Linked DNA regions of Homo sapiens: region 1 is linked to region 2. The links come from fine-mapping of genetic effects on gene expression. Tissue or cell type: whole blood. Region 2 holds a variant in brackets; the other region holds the start of a gene. All regions are shown on one strand. Distances are from middle to middle.

The links. PIP is the estimated chance that this variant, and not a neighbour inherited with it, causes the effect.
Region 1: it holds the start of RSPH3, and the variant in region 2 is fine-mapped to the expression of RSPH3 in whole blood (INTERVAL, PIP 0.97).

Annotation. Positions count from the first base shown.
Region 1 is chr6:158,995,868-159,004,016 of GRCh38, reverse strand. RSPH3 (radial spoke head 3) reads left to right here and starts at 3,815. Exons shown (of 8, transcript NM_031924.8): 1 at 3,815-4,582. The coding sequence starts at 4,467. TAGAP-AS1 (TAGAP antisense RNA 1) reads right to left here and starts at 4,144. Exons shown (of 5, transcript NR_183546.1): 1 at 3,625-4,144. RefSeq lists enhancers at 3,507-3,556, 3,129-4,100, 3,967-4,126, 4,297-4,366, 4,397-4,446 and 2 more.
Region 2 is chr6:158,945,919-158,954,119 of GRCh38, reverse strand. No RefSeq gene overlaps it. Among named protein-coding and RNA genes, the nearest start is that of TAGAP-AS1, 50 kb to the left of the region's middle. The variant T/C (reference allele first, on the strand shown) is at 3,828.

The DNA of each region.
Region 1 (8,149 bases), 50 kb before region 2:
TTTCAGATACGGGGAGATAAAAAATTGGAGTTGAAAACTGCGGATAGGACTTGAAGGGACAGATCCCAAAGAAAGGAGGATCATAGAGAAGCCAGTCTGACATTTAGTTTGGCTTTTATCCTTGAGGCATTTGCTGAATTCTAAGCTGTAAGGGCACTGGAAATCAAGAAACCAAACAGTTGCTAAATAGCTAAAATGCTAAGTGTACATTTCAACAGTCTCACAGAGCTGGGAGTACAAAAATTGGAGTTCAAGGTCACCCAAAGATGGGGACCTGTTAAATACCACAGATGTTCATGTTGAGAAAGAATAGAAAGGCCTAGCTCTGGGATAAGGCCAAACTAGAAAATGATCAGCCCTCACAAAGTCTGAATCCCTAATTAAAGGTCATCTGAGGCCAGGCGCAGGGGCTCACACCTGTAATCCCAGTACTTTAGGAGGCCAATGCAGGTGGATCACTTGAGGTCAGGAGTTCGAGACCAGCCTGATCAACATGGTGAAACCCAGTCTCTACTAAAAAAATACAAAATTGGCCGGGCATGGTGGTGCACACCTGTAATCCCAGCTACCTGGGAGGTGAGACAGGAGAATTGCTTGAACCCGGGAGGTGGAGGCCACAGTGAGCCAAGACAGTGCCATTGTACTCCAGCCTGGGCAACAAGAGCAAAACTCCGCCTCAAAAAAAAAAAAAAAAAAAGTCATCCGTTCCTACTCTAATTGCTTGCCAGAATAAAATTAAATCCTTTCTGGAGAAACACAACATCAGCCACAGTCTCTATGCAATTTATTTATTTATTTTTTATTTATTTATTTAGTTTTTTTTTTTTTGCCAGAGCCTCTATGTGATTTTTTTCCTACACAATGTCTAACATTTAATCAGAAACCTTAGGTTCATCTCTTTTGCCTTTCTTTCTCTCGTGCACCACGTCACGTCCAATCTGTTCTACCTTCAAAATTGAGCTGGGATCTTCCCACCACTTTTGTCCCAGATCCAGAACCAAGCTCCACTGAAAGCAAGGCAGTCTGTCCCCCGACATGGCCTCGGCACTGACTCACTGCATCTCTCGGGCCCGAGCACCACACCTACACCAGATCCAAGCCACCCTCTCACCAGCCTTATTGGGAGCAGCTTCCTATCTGGTCTCTCTGCTTCTGCCTTTGCCCCACTTCAGTCTATTCTCAACCAAACAACTAGAAAAAACAAATTTTTTTAATCAAACTATGTCAAGCTTCTACTCAAAACCCTTTAGGGACTTTTAACCCTAGAGTAAAACCTAAAGTCCTTTCACTGACCTACAACAGGGCGCACGGCCCAGCCTCTGACTTCATCTCCGAATGCTCCTCCTTGTGCTCACTCTGCTCCACTCACTCTTACTGCCATCCCCAACACGACTTCCTGCCTTAGAACGAGGAATTGGCTGCTTCCTTGACCTGGAATGCTGTGACAATTAGTCACAAGTCTCAAGTTTCATTTCTTCACCTCCTTCAAGTCTTTACTCAAATGTCACCTTCTCAATGAAGCCTTCTCTGACCACTATAAAATTGATAGGTCTCCCATGCCCCTAGCACCTAGCCTTATTTCCTGCTTTATTTCGAATTAGCTATTATAATTATGTAACACCCATAATGTACTCACTTTTCTTGTTTGTATGACTCCTCCACTAGAATATAAATTCTGTCAAGGCAGGACTTTTAATCTGTTGTTTGTTTTTGTTTTTCACTGCTATATCCCCACTAACACCAGGGGAGTGGGGACGAGGGACAAGAAAACAACAATGCTTGGCACATACTAGATACACATAACTATTTGTGGAATGAATCTTTCAGTTTCAGATCATCCAAGAGTTGTCCACAAAATAGTCAGATATCCAGGACTGTCACCTGAGGGAGAAGTCTAGGTTAGAGATACATCCTTTGCTACCCTGAGTATATAGGTGGTACTAGAAATTACAGACGTGAAATGGGACTGCCCTGGGAGAAAGTACAAGAAGAGAAACAGGCTGTGGATAAAAACTTGTACAGGCCAGGCACAGTGGCTCACGCCTGTAATCCCAACACTTTGGGAGGCTGAGGAGGGCGGATCACCAGGTCAAGAGAACAAGACCATCCTGGCCAACATGGTGAAACCCCGCCTCTACTAAAAATACAGAAATTAGCTGGACGGGGTGGCACACGCCTGTAGTCCCAGCTACTCAGGAGGCTGAGGCAGGAGAACCACTTGAACCGGGGAGGCGGAGGTTGCAGTGAGCCAAGATCGCGCCACTGCACTCCAGCCTGGCCACAGAGCGAGACTCCATCTAAAAAAAAAAAAAAAGAAAGAAACTTGTACAAGAACCTATAGTGGCTATCAATTTCTTTATAAAGCCCACTGTGGCTGGTATAGCACTATTGTTTACCCACTTAATACCCACTCAATTCTGCCCCAACATCCTCCTAACAGAATTTGTTCTCCTCCTCCCTGGCCAAGTGTTTCTTGGAGGCCTAGAAAGACCGGTTACCTGGTCTAATCCAAATATGGTGGTCTTATATAGATCCTAAGCTTAAATCAATATGATGTAATTCTGGTCAGTTGGGAGTTTACGAGGGGGTTTTGCTCTTCCAATAAAGACAAAAGAGCAGATACTTCTATTACTACTTTGTTGAAGCCAACAACCCAGGTGACAGAGTGGAAAGGTAGGGGAAAAAACGTGTTGTTGATAATGTGCTGAGCCCCCAAGTTACCCTCCAGGTTAACCAACCTGGGGAGTGTAAAATAATGAATTCCTTATTATTTCAGCCACTTGGAATTGGTTTTTTGTTACTTGAGGGAAAAAATATTCTAATTAATATGCTAGTGTTTACTGTTTCCACGATGTGGTGTCAGCCTGTCTATATATATTTCTACAACTCATCTACACAAACCTTGCTTACAGTTTTCCAAATGCACCTTGGGCTTCTTGAGCCTTTGATCAAGCCATTCCGAATGCACTTCCCCCAAGAGGCTGGCCAGTTAAAATACTATCATTTATCAAACACAACTTAAATGTCACTTTCTCCTCTAGCCCTTTCAGAAATTACCTCAAAATTAAATGATCAGACCTAAAATATGTTGGGAGTGTTTTCACCTCTAGAATTTACCATACACCTTTATGCTAGTGTTACTTATAGAATGCCTACATCTGCTTTAGGTCATACACTTCAAAGCACAGAACGGTCCAGATCTTAATATAAAGGCTTGCCATTTACCAGGCACAGCTCTAAGTATTAACGGTTTTAATCCTCAAGACAAAACCTAAAGAGATAAATTCTTCTATTGCCACTTTGTGGATTAGGAAAATGAAGCACAAAAACATTTAACTTGCCTGAGGTTTCGGAGCTAGTACATTCTAGAACCTGGATTCAAATCAAGACAGCAATTAGCTGAATGAAGGTGTAACTGCAAATGCAAATAACTGATCACAAGGGATACACATTCACTCATACAAGATAGAAGATTTTTAACGTTGCTGGTACTAAAACCAAAGCGTCTGCGTTTTTAAGCGCAGCCCCACCCCGCAATACTAGAGACATTCTTTAGAGCTGGAAGCCTGATAGATTAAGGGGAACTATGCCTTTGTATTTTTTAAGACTCAATAAATTGCTCACTTCTTTCCCAAAATGAGGTGTCTGTGGGGGAGGCCCCTGTCGCTCCGTGTGCCAAGGGTCCTCCGATTGCTAGCACACAGCGGTGAGCAGAGAAGGTAGGTGAGGAACTGCACTGACTCAGCTGCAGAGGGCGGCGGCAGCCCGCCCCTGGGGCGGGAGAAGGGCAGGAGCCGGGAGACACCAGGAAGCTCTTCCCCGCCCGGGCACGTAACAGAGCTGGGAGCCTGGCTGCCAGGGGCGTGTTATCGCGGGGGCAGCCTGGGAGCGCTGCTGCGCCGCGGCAGGAGAAACAGCCGAGGACACCCTGGAAGAGCAGGAGCACGTGGGCCTGCGAGAATGGCGCCAACACCAGCCCTGCAAAGCCACATTCCAAAGCCGGGCCAAGGACAGCCACCGTTGCCCCGCAGGCCTCAAGGATGACGGTCAAGCCAGCCAAGGCCGCCTCCCTAGCCAGGAACCTCGCAAAGCGCAGGCGCACCTACCTGGGTGGCGCGGCTGGGCGGAGTCAAGAGCCGGAAGTCCCTTGTGCCGCAGTCCTTCCCGGGAAACCTGGGGACCGGAACTGCCCGGAGTTCCCGCCCCCAGACAGAACCCTGGGTTGCTGGGCAACCGATGCGGCCCCCGCAGCTGGTCTCTGTGGTGCTGGGAGCGAGCCCAGTATAGCTCCCACCTCCTGCGCTGGTAACCTCCCGTCCCGCCCGCCTCCCTTGTTGTCGCCTCTCCTCGCGTCGCGGAATCCTTGCCCTTGGCACTACTTACATCTCTCCGGGTCCCACAACACCTTAGCGCCCACCTGCTTCAAAGCCAAGCTCCACCGAAAGCGAGGCAGTCAGCCCCCGGACATGGCCTCAGCGCTGACTGATCGCACCTCTCGGGCCCCGAGCACCTACACCTACACCAGCCGGCCCCGAGCACTGCCCTGCCAGCGCAGCCGTTACCGGGACAGCCTGACGCAGCCGTGAGTGACCAAGCCAGCCCCTGTGTGGTCCATACTTGCACCCCATCCCCAGGCCGGGGTCTGGCCCCTTCGCCCTGGCAAAAAAGCTGCTTATGCTGTCTTCCCTTGGCTGCACTCTGCCGAAATAAAAGTTCTGCCCTAAGGAATCTCCCGTGGTGTGGAGGAGTGAAGCAGGAAGGGGCATGGGTTGGGCATCAGTTAACTTTTAGTGATATGAGTTGCTGCCGTGGTCCTTAACATGTACACGAATTGGCTCATTTCACAAAGTTTGAATTGTACCAGTGTGTATTGAGGGCCAACTACGTGCTGAGCACCTTACGGGGGGCATTCAAATACGTTTTCTTAGTTAATCCACAGTGCTGTGAAGTTGATTTTATAACTCCATTATGCAGATGAGGAGACCGCGGTGCAAAGATATCCAACAGTAGCATATCCAAAATGGGAGCCGAGTAAATCTCTTCGGCAGGCTTTGAGCAGGAGTAAGATTATTCTTCCATGCAGGACCACAGATTGGTTTTTTGTGGTGGTGGTGGTGGTGGTGGTGGTGGTTGCTGTTGTTGTTTTGAGACGGAGTTTCGCTCTTGTCGCCCAGGCTGGACTGCAATGACGCGATCTCCGCTCACTGCAACCTCCGCCCCCCTCCCCCACTCCTCCCCGATCAAACGATTCTCCTGCCTCAGCCTCCCAAGTAGCTGGGACTAGAGGCGCCCTCCACCACCCCCGGCTAATCTTTGTATTTTTAGTAGAGACAGGGTTTTGCCACGTTGGCCAGGCTGGTCTCAAACTCTTGGCCTCAAGTGATCCGCCCGCCTCGGCCTCCCAAAGTGCTGGGATTACAAGCGTGAGCCACCGCGCCCGGACGGCAGTTTGTGTTTTTACATCCATGAACAGTTGCAAATATTCAAACATACATAGGAAAGAAAAAAAACAAAACATAAGCCTTTTTTTTTTTCTTTTTTTTTTTTTGAGACGGAGTCTCGCTCTGTCGCCCAGGCTGGAGTGCAGTGGCACAATCTCGGCTCACTGCAACCTCCACCTCCCGGGTTCACGCCATTCTCCTGCCTCAGCCTCCCAAGTAGCTGGGACTACAGGCGCCCGCCACCACGCCCGGCTCTTTTTTTTTTTTTTTTTTTTTTTGTATTTTTTTAGTAGAGACGGGGTTTCACCATGTTAGCCAGGATACTCTCGATCTCCTGACCTCATGATCCGCCCGCCTCGGCCTCCCAAAATGCTGGGATTACAGGCCTGAGCCACCACACCCAGCAAAAAAAACATAAACTCTTAAAGTTCTCTTAAAGTTAAACGGTTCTCTAAAGTTCTTTCCATAAGCCTCAAATGTTGAATTCAGCAGAACTTTATAGGAATGCAAGCTCCATGGATGCAGGAACTTTTGCATCTTTTGTTCACCTAGTACAATGCCTGGTACATAGTAAGCACTTAATACGAATTGTCAAACTGATGATTGAACATCAACAATGTAATTATTGATGCTTATTTCAAACGCTCTTTCTAAATTCATAATTATCTTGTTCTAACAAATTCTTTTTCTATAAGAGATGTCTATCACTGTAAGAAAACTAAAATAGAAAATTTAAATTTGAAGAGTGATCATTTATATTAGAAAAGGATTCAATTTTAAAATTTTCTAATCCTTCCAAAAACACTTTCTGGTGCCTTTAAGTGGTTGCTTACAAATCATTACTATCCAATCAGACCAACAGATTAGAAACAAGAATCAATGGTGGTTCATTAGGAACAACTTTTTTGATAGTTGATTAGTATATTGAAGTAATCTATTGATTAGTTTATTAGTATATCTGAGTAATGCACAAGACAGAAAAATCTCAATTTTGAGGAAGTATTATCTTACAAATCATAATCATTGATATCCTAATGGATAAAATACTGATATTTTATCCATAATTTGCTTATGGATAAGGATAATATTCTCCTCTGATATCCTTATGAATAAAATATTTTTTAAGTGTTCAGGAGAGTAGCCGGGCATGGTGGCATGTACCTGTAATCCCAGGTACTTGGGAGGCTGACGCAGGAGGATCACTTAAACCCAGAAGGCGGAGGTTGCAGTGAGCCAAGATCACGCCACTGCACTCCAGCCTGGGCGACAAAGCGAAACTCTGTCTCAAAAAAAAAAAAAAAAAAGTGTTCAGGAGAGTACTTGTCTTAATCCATCTTATGTTGCTCTAACAGAGTATCTGAAACTGGATAGTCTATAAAGAGATCTATTTAGCTCACAGCTCTGCAGACTGAGAAGTACAAGAGCATGGTGCTGGCATCTGCTTGCCTTCTAGTGAGGGCTTTTCTTGTTGTTTCATAACATGATGGAGAAGGTCAAAGGGGAAGCAGATCCGTGGGAAGTGGCCAAACAGGAGGAAGTACCTCATTTTGTAGCAACTTGCTGTCTCTGGAACTAGTCCTGTGAGAACTTAATCCAGTCTCTTGAGAGTAAGAGTTCCCTCACTACTGCGAGAACTGGTGCCAAGCCATTCATGAGGGATCCACCCATGTTCCAAACACCTCCCACTAGGCCCCACTTCCCAACACTGCCATATTGGAAATTAAATTTCCATGTGAGTTTTAGTGGAGACGACAAACCATATCCAGACCACAGCAGTACTTTTAGTACTTGCTGGTGAGTAACTAAATGACCATATCCAAAAAGAGTATGCTTTTGTGTCAATCTGTCTCTATCCTAGAATGTCGTTTAGTTCTTTCATGTTCAAAATTTTATGTTGAACTGGATAAATCTTCAGTTTTTCAGATGACACATGGCTGGAATGGATAACTAACTTATGACTGAAGGGAGTCAAGGTTCTAAATTATCTTGATTGGGTATATATAACTGGGCTGAAACCAAAAAATGAAACTTAATTGGAAAGCTGTGAAGTTTTACTTAGGTATGAGAAGTCAGTTACACAAATACAGAAATGGGAGTATCTGATTTTTCCTTTGAAAGGGTCTAGAAATTTAACACAAGTCTAATGTGAATCAAGAACTTCCACCTTTTCATAGGATTATAAAGCTGAAAGAGAACATTTGAATACTAGTCTTCTCATTTACAAACAAGAGAATGTAATACATCTTTTATGTATTTCTTGGTAGTTGGGTGATCATAAATGCCATTAAATTCACCTTTAGGCATGTGTGAAAAGACAATTGTGATAATGACATTCCCTCATTTTACAAATCCTTTGGTAAAGGATATATAACCCTTCCAATAAAATAACATTTTTAATGCAAATGAATTAAAACCTTAGAACATACCTTTTTTTTATTTTTATTTTTACTCAGGTCAAATAAGGTTTAAAATCACCGTAGAGGGCAGAATAATGATTCCCCAAAGATGTCCTCTTCCTAGTCCCCAGAACCTGTGAACATGTTATGTGGTAAAAGGGACTTTGAGATGTGATTACATTAAGGATCTTGAGATGGGAGATCTTGAGATGGGAAATTAGCCTGGCTTATCCAGGTGGGCCCAGTAGAATCACAGTGGGGCCTTAAAAGTAAAAGAAGAAGGATGGGCACGGTGGCTCACGCCTGTAATCC
Region 2 (8,201 bases):
TTTAACTTCAGACGATGAAGTAATAAAACATTAAGAGTTTTATTTCCACGACATCTAGGAATTGAGGCAGCATTATCTGTAGACTGGCTCCGCCTGATGGTTTAACCAAGGCCATTCTAGTGCATTGTGTGTTTTTCACAAAATGTTAATTTTTAATATGAGAGCAATAGTAATAAGCAGTATTGCCTTTAGCTAGCTAGACACATCAGCCCTAAGTACATCTTATGCATAGCTGTATTAACTATTACTATAATACCTCTACACACATAAAATGAATGCCATTTGAAGCTTGTGTCTTTCAAATTGTTATATGGAAAAATGCATGTCACTTTCTTTTTTTTTTTTTTTTTTTTTTTTTGAGATGGAGTTTTGTTCTTGTTGCCCAGGCTGGAGTGCAATGACACAATCTCGGCTCACTGCAACCTCCACCTCCCGGGTTCAAGCGATTCTCCTGCCTCAGCCTCCCAAGTAGCTGGGATTACAGGCATGTGCCACCACGGCCGGCTAATTTTGTATTTTTAGTAGAGACAGGGTTTCACCATGTTGGTCAGGCTGGTCTTGAACTCCCAACCTCAGGTGATCCACCCGCCTTGGCCTCCCAAAGTGCTGGGATTATAGGAATGAGACACTGCGCCCGGCCAATACATGTTACTTTCAAAAGATACTGAAACCATACTCCCTGCACTGTGAAGGCTAATTGAAAATTTCTTGTACCAAATTATTTTTTCATTACTCTTCAATCTGGATTATAGAAATTGTTTTATTCTAGTTTCTGTATTACCATGTCTGGGAAAAGATGAAATCTTCTGGGAGGTCAGGGAAACTATTGTAGTTTTTAAGAAGAATGACATCAAATTTGTATTTTTTGAAGGTAATTCTGGTAGAAGTATAAAATAGAATTTTGTTAAGAATGGAAATAGGGCCAGGCATGGTAGCTCATGCTTGTAATCCCAACATGGGTGGATTGCTTGAGCCCAGGAGTTCGAGACCAGCCTGGGCAACATAGTGAGACCCCTGTCTCTGCAAAAAAATACAAGAATCAGGGCATGGTGGCACTAGCCTGTGGTCCCAGCTACTCGGGAGGCTGAGACAGGAGGATCACTTAAGCCTGGGAGGCAGAGGTTGCAGTGCACCGAGATCAAGCCACTGTACTCCAACCTGGGTGACAAAGCAAGACCCTGTCTCAAAAAAAAAAAAAAAAAAAAAAAAGAGAAAAAAAGAAAAAAGAAATAGGAGGTTAATTAGTACAATATTCCAATTGTTAGGCAAGAGAGAGTAAGCCATTGAGAGAGTGGGAGTTGAAAGCAGGGGACAGTCACATGAGACAAAGCCAATAGGAGATTCTAGATGAAGCAAAGTCTGTAAGAAGTTAAGAGAAGATGAAACCAAATTCAGGTGAAGAAATTAGACTCATTACTTGCCCATCGAGTCTCAGTTTAACATTTCTAAAGTGGAAATTTAACAATATGTTCCCTCTGCCTCATCATAAGGTTTTTGTAAGAAATAAAGCAGATAAGTATCAAATGCAGAAAACAGTGATCCACAAATATTGGTTATTATTTTCTTTTTTCTTTTTTTTAATTATACTTAAGTTCTGGGATACATATGCAGAACGTACAGGTTTGTCACATAGGTATACATGTGCCATTGTGGTTTGCTGCACCCATCAACCCGTCATCTACATTGCTTATTTCTCCTAACGCTACCCCTCTCCTTGCCTCCACTCGCTGACAGGCCCCAGTGTGTGATGTTCACCACCCCATGCCCTCATTGTTCTCATTGTTCAACTCCCACTTATGAGTGAGAACATGTGGTGTTTGGTTTTCTGTTCCTGTGTTAGTTTGCTGAGAATGATGGTTTCCACCTTCATCCATATCCCTGCAAAGGACATGAACTCATTCTTTTTTATGGCTGCATAGTATTCCATGGTGTATATGTGGCATATTTTCTTTATCCAGTCTATCATTGATAGGCATTTGGGTTGTTTCCAAGTCTTTGCTGTTGTGAATAGCGCTGCAATAAACATACGTGTGCATGTATCTTTATATTAGAATAATTTATAATCCTTTGGGTGTATAACCAGTAATGGGATTGCTGAGTCAAATGGTATTTCTAGTTCTAGATCCTTGAAGAATTGCCACACTGTCTTCCACAATGTTTGAACTAATTTACACTCCCACCAACAGTGTAAAAGTGTTCCTATTTCTCCACATCCTCTCCAGCATCTGTTGTTTCCAGACATTTTAATGATCGCCATTCTAACTGGCATGAGATGGTATCTCATTGTGGTTTTGATTTGCATTTCTCTAATGACCAGTGATGATGAGCTTTTTTTTTAATGTTTGTTGGCTGCATAAATGTCTTCTTTTGAAAAGTGTCTGTTCATATCCTTCGCCCACTTTTTGATGGGGTTGTTTTTTTCTTGTAAATTTGTTTAAGTTCCCTGTAGATTCTGGATATTAGCCCTTTGTCAAATGGATAGATTACAAAAATGTTCTCCCATTCTGTAGGTTGCCTGTTCACTCTGATGATAGTTTCTTTTACTGTGCAGAAGCTCTTTAGTTTAATTATATTCCATTTGTCTATTTTGGCTTTTGTTGCCAATGCTTTTGGTGTTTTAGTCATGAAGTCTTTGCCCATGCCTATGTCCTGAATGGTATTGCCTAGGTTTTCTTCTAGGGTTTTTATGGTTTTAGGCCTTACATTTAAATCTTTAGTCCATCTTGAGTTAATTTTTGTATAAGGTGTAAGGAAGAGGTCCAGTTTCAGTTTTCTGCATATGGCTAGCCAGTTTTCCCAACACCATTTATTAAATAGGGAATCCTTTACCCATTGCTTGTTTTTGTCAGGTTTGTCAAAGATCAGATGGTTGTAGATGTGTGGTGTTATTTCTGAGGCCTCTGTTCTGTTCCATTGGTCTATATATCTGTTTTGGTACCAGTACCAAGCTGTTTTTTTACTGTAGCCTTGTAGTATAGTTTGAAGTCAGGTGGCATGATGCCGCCAGCTTTGTTCTTTTTGCTTGGCTATATGGGCTCTTTTTTGGTTCCATATGAAATTTAACGTAGTTTTTTCTAATTCTGTGAAGAAAGTCAATTGTAGCTTGATGGAAATAGCGTTGAATCTATAAATTACTTTGGGCAGTATAGTCATTTTTACGATATTGATTCTTCCTATCCATGAGCATGGAATTTTTTTCCATTTGTTTGTGTCCTCTCTTATTTCCTTGAACAATGGTTTGTAGTTTTCCTTGAAGAGGTCCTTCACATCACTTTAAGTTTTATTCCTAAGTATTTTATTCTCTTTGTAGCAATCGTAAATGGGAGTTCACTCATGATTTGACTCTCTATTATTGGTGTATAGGAATGCTTATGATTTTTGCACATTTATTTTGTATCCTGAGACTTTGCTGAAATTGCTTATCAGCTTAAGGAGTTTTTGGGCTGAGACAATGGGGTTTTCTAAATATACAATTGTGTCATCTGCAAACAGAGATAATTTGACTTCCTCTCTTCCTATTTGAATACCCTTTATTTATTTATCTTGCCTGATTGCCCTGGCCAGAACTTCCAACACTATGTTGAATAGGAGTGGTGAGAGAGGGCATCCTTGTCTTGTGCTGGTTTTCAAAGGGACTGCTTCCAGGTTTTGCCCATTCAGTATGATATTGGCTGCGTGTTTGTCATAAATAGCTCTTATTATTTTGAGATACGTTCCATCAGTACCTGGTTTATTGAGCGTTTTTAGCATGAAAGGGTGTTGAATTTTATCGAAGGCTTTTTCTGCATCTATTGAGATAATTTTCTACTTTAATATATTTTTAAAAT[T/C]CATGTGGCAAAGCAAAGGTATGTGGTATGTCATGAATAGATGGAGCTGTTCATGTCATTTGTACAAAAATTCACGCTGCATGTTTGTTCCATCCTGGGCACTACTGCTCTAGACCCTGGGCTGACAGCATTGATCACAACAGACCTGAGCCTTGCCCACATGAAGCTCACACTCTAGTACAGAACAATGCAGGAATAGCCCTTGAGGGCCTCCCTGCTTAGGAGTAGAGCCCGTGGGAGACTGAAGAATATCGATGCTTGTCATAGGAACAGGGAAGAGAGAGGAGCAGCCAGTTAGCAGGTTGGGAGTGTGGCGACTGTGATCTGGAATCTGGTCAGCTCCAGCCGTGGAGAATCAGCTTCTGGGGTGTAGATATAAGCTGTCGGGGTGGCAAAGAAGAGTCAGGGCCTGAGAAACTGGATGGGTTTTGGGACATCATCTGAGAACTGAACACTGAAAAATGAATGAGACCTCAGAAATTGAAAGAGTAGAGAAATTCTCAGGTCAATGAGAATGCAGTTGAAGGAGAAGGAAGGAAGAGGAGACATTGGAGGAAACAGATGACATGGTCAAAAAAATTGTAGGAAAACTGAAGAAATAGATGGTAGAATAGAAGGGAGGATTTACTTTTTTAAAAAATCACTGTAGGGGCAGGCACAGTGGCTCACGCCTGTAATCCCAGCACTTTGGGAGGCCAAGGCAGGAAGGAGGATCACTTGAGCCCAGGAGTTCAAGGCCAGCCTAGGCAAGATGGTAAGACCCTGGCTTTGAAAAAAATACAAATAAAAAATGTTTTTCTTTTATTAGCCAGGCATGGTGGCACACCCCTGTAGTCTCAGTTACTTGGGAGGCTGAGGCAGGTGGTTCTCTTGAGCCCAGGAGCTTGAGGCTGTAGTGAGCTATGATACCACCACTGCACTCCAGCCTGAGTGACAGAGCAAGACCTTGTCTCAAAAAAAAAAGTAAAATGAGAAGTGACTGGCCAGGCACAGTGGCTTACGCCTGTAATCCCAGCACTTTGGGAGGCCAAGGCGGGCAGATCACGAGGTCAGGAGTTCAAGACTAGCCTGGCTAACATGGTGAAACCCCATCTCTACTAAAAATACAAAAAAATTAGCCGAGCATGGTGGCGGGTGCCTGTAGTCCCAGTTACTCAGGAGGCTGAGGCAGGAGAATGGTGTGAAGCTGGGAGCTGGAGCTTGCAGTGAGCCAAGATCGTGCCACTGCACTCCAGCCTGGGCGACAGAGCAAGACTCCATCTCAAAAAAAAGAAAGAAGTGACTGCATTCACACGTTTCACACAAGATTTAATTAGTTATAGAGCTACTTCCACATAAGTAAAGAAAATGGAGTAACAGTTTACATGATACGAGAATGTCATAGTCTTCCCAGAATGTTGCAAGAGAACACTGTCTATGTATGTGATTCTTTTGTTTTTTCAGCAGTAGTAGTAGCCAAAAAGTTGTATGCTTGGATTTTTCCTAATCCAAGTCCCTAATACTAAAGAAAATTTATCATTCCAAACTTAAAATTTCAGGTCCCATTTTTCAATTAGTATAGGCAATAAAATATCCCTGAAATGGCTCATCTACTTCTGATTTTATATACACACACACATCTGTACCAGACACTTAAGTGTGCCAAGTGCTAAGTGCTAAGGAAATTTTGCGTGTGTGTGTGTATAATTTCCTCTATTTGGGAAAAAAAATTTAATAGTCAGTGAAAGCTATCTATATAGTACCTTAAAGGAAAACTACACAAAGCACTCATGAATATACAAATTTTTTATTTCTAATACTTTTCATTTCTTGTGAAGTAACTGCTAAAATTATTTCTAACAAAATTACAGATGAGTAAAATATGTATATATGATGTAACATTATAAATTATAATGTAATTTTAGCAAATCCTTATATTACAGCATGGAATCACTTCAGTATCATTCATGGATAAAGTATTAGCCATTACGTTAATAATGTTCATGTAAGTTGTTAAAGCATCATACGTTTCTTTCTATTGGAATATGTCAGTTAACACAGTCCCATTGAACTCCCTCAGCCGGGTCATTCTTCCTTTTCTGAAAGTTGGGACCATGGAAGATCACACTTGTGGTCAGTGTCATAGATGTCTTCAGTGCCCTATGAGATTTTTATATTTTGTGTATCTGTATCCCAGGACATTGATTTTATCCAAGAACAGTCTTCATCCTTTGCATCAGGAACATTTTGACCACAACATTTTGATTTCTGGATGGGAAGAAAGGGTAAATGAAAATGGTTTTATTTTGCGGTTAATTTATCTACTCAAAACATAGATTATTCAGTAAAATCTCTTAACGTTATTTTAACATAACATAAAATCTAATTTTCATTTATTAATCAGAAAATAATACATGAAACATCATCTACTCTTTCCATAATAAACATCAAGAAATAAAATAGCGTTCAATAAGAAAAGACTTAAGACATCGCCTGTCAGACAGATGCCAGTTTGCGAGTGGAATGGCTAAAGAGAAATCTGCTGCACATTTGAAGAGAGAACCTAGAGTGCATATCCCTACCATGAGGAGAAAACACAGCTTAGTCTTTATACTTTGTCATTTATTTATTCAACAGATATTTATTTAGACTTATTATGCACCAGGACCTGTTTTGTGACTAAAAACACAACAATGAACTAACAGGGAAGGTTGCTGCCCGACTTCCGCGTCTCTTGAAAATGAAGCAAGTCCTGCCTCCCTGCATGGGCAAACTTCCTCAGCCCTATAAGATCACTGCAAGATACTCCTAAAAGCACCTTCTAAACAATACTTTGTGCAATGAATGCAAACTGTGATTCAGCTGCACTGGGGCGGAGTCCAGGCATCACGGTTTTAAAGCTGCCCAAGTTAGCGGAAAGTGCAGCCAGAGTTGAAAACTTGAAAACCACCGAGCACTGTTTCTTCTCTGGGTTCTTTCATACACATTCGTTTCTTCTTCTCATTTGACCCACAATATAGTCCCTCATACTAAAGAAAAATGGAAATTGGACCCAGTGAATTAGGTGATGCTACCAGACCCTAGCAATCCCTGCCAATCTCTAAACCCCCAAAGAAGACAGACTAGGGACTAGCTCGTGTGATTCTCAGGGGAACATAGGTGTAGCTAACCCCATCCATGTTCTCTAGCCATCTGCTGCACTAAGTGCTCAGTTAGAAGAATGGATGAGAGTCCATGTAGATTGGAAGGAAAATGCCCAAAAAGTGTCTTCTTATAATTAAAATAAATATAGTCAAATTGTATCTTATTTACTTTGGTGAATGTTTTTACAAAAAGTATAAAATTCTATAAAAAGCACTAGTCTATCCCTTTTTATTCAGAAATTTAGGACATATCTAGGTTTTAAGAATATAGCCATGAGTTTACTTTCAGGCAGTATTGGCCAAAGCAAATATTACAATGTTATTACAATGTTAAAATAGTATTATATGATAAAATTACTGAAGTAGTAAAGCTTCAAGTTTAAATAGGAGTTTTCTGTTTTAATTGATCAGTTTTCTAGTGTGATAAAAAATCAAAATATATAAATATATATAAAATGTATATAAATATGTTTGTATATAATATATAAATGTATAAGTATACATTTATATATATTTAAATATATACATATAAATATATTTATATGTAAATATATATGTTTATATGTATATATGTATTTATATATAAATGTATATTTATATAAATATATACAAACATAAATACATATTTATATATAAATATATACATATATAACATACAAATATATGTATATATGCACATATATAATTTTATATTAATATACTATATTATATTAATATATTAATATTAATTATATTACTATACAATTAATATATTAATATAATTAATATAATATATAATTAAATATGTGCATATAAACATATATTTGTATATTTTGTGTATATATGCACATATATAATATACATATATAATTATATATTTACATATATTATATGTACATATATAACATATATGTACATATATACAATTATATGTATGTATATATGTACATATATATATAATTCCTACAGTGCTTTTTATTTCCAATAACTTGCTTTGGTTGAAAATGTAATTTTAACGAAAGGTAGTTTATGAGTTTCTAAATCAATAATGTACAATAAATGTAATAAACCTGATAGGATGAAAAAGTCTCACAGCATGTATAGTATGGTCTGACCAACCCTGACATTAAACTTATTGACTGGAAACTTCCTGTCATGCTTTTAAAACATTATTTCTGGCCAGGTGTGGTGGCTTATACCTGTAATCCTAGCACTTTGGGAGGCCGAGGTGAGCAAATCACTTGAGCCCAAGAGTTCAATACCAGCCTGGGCA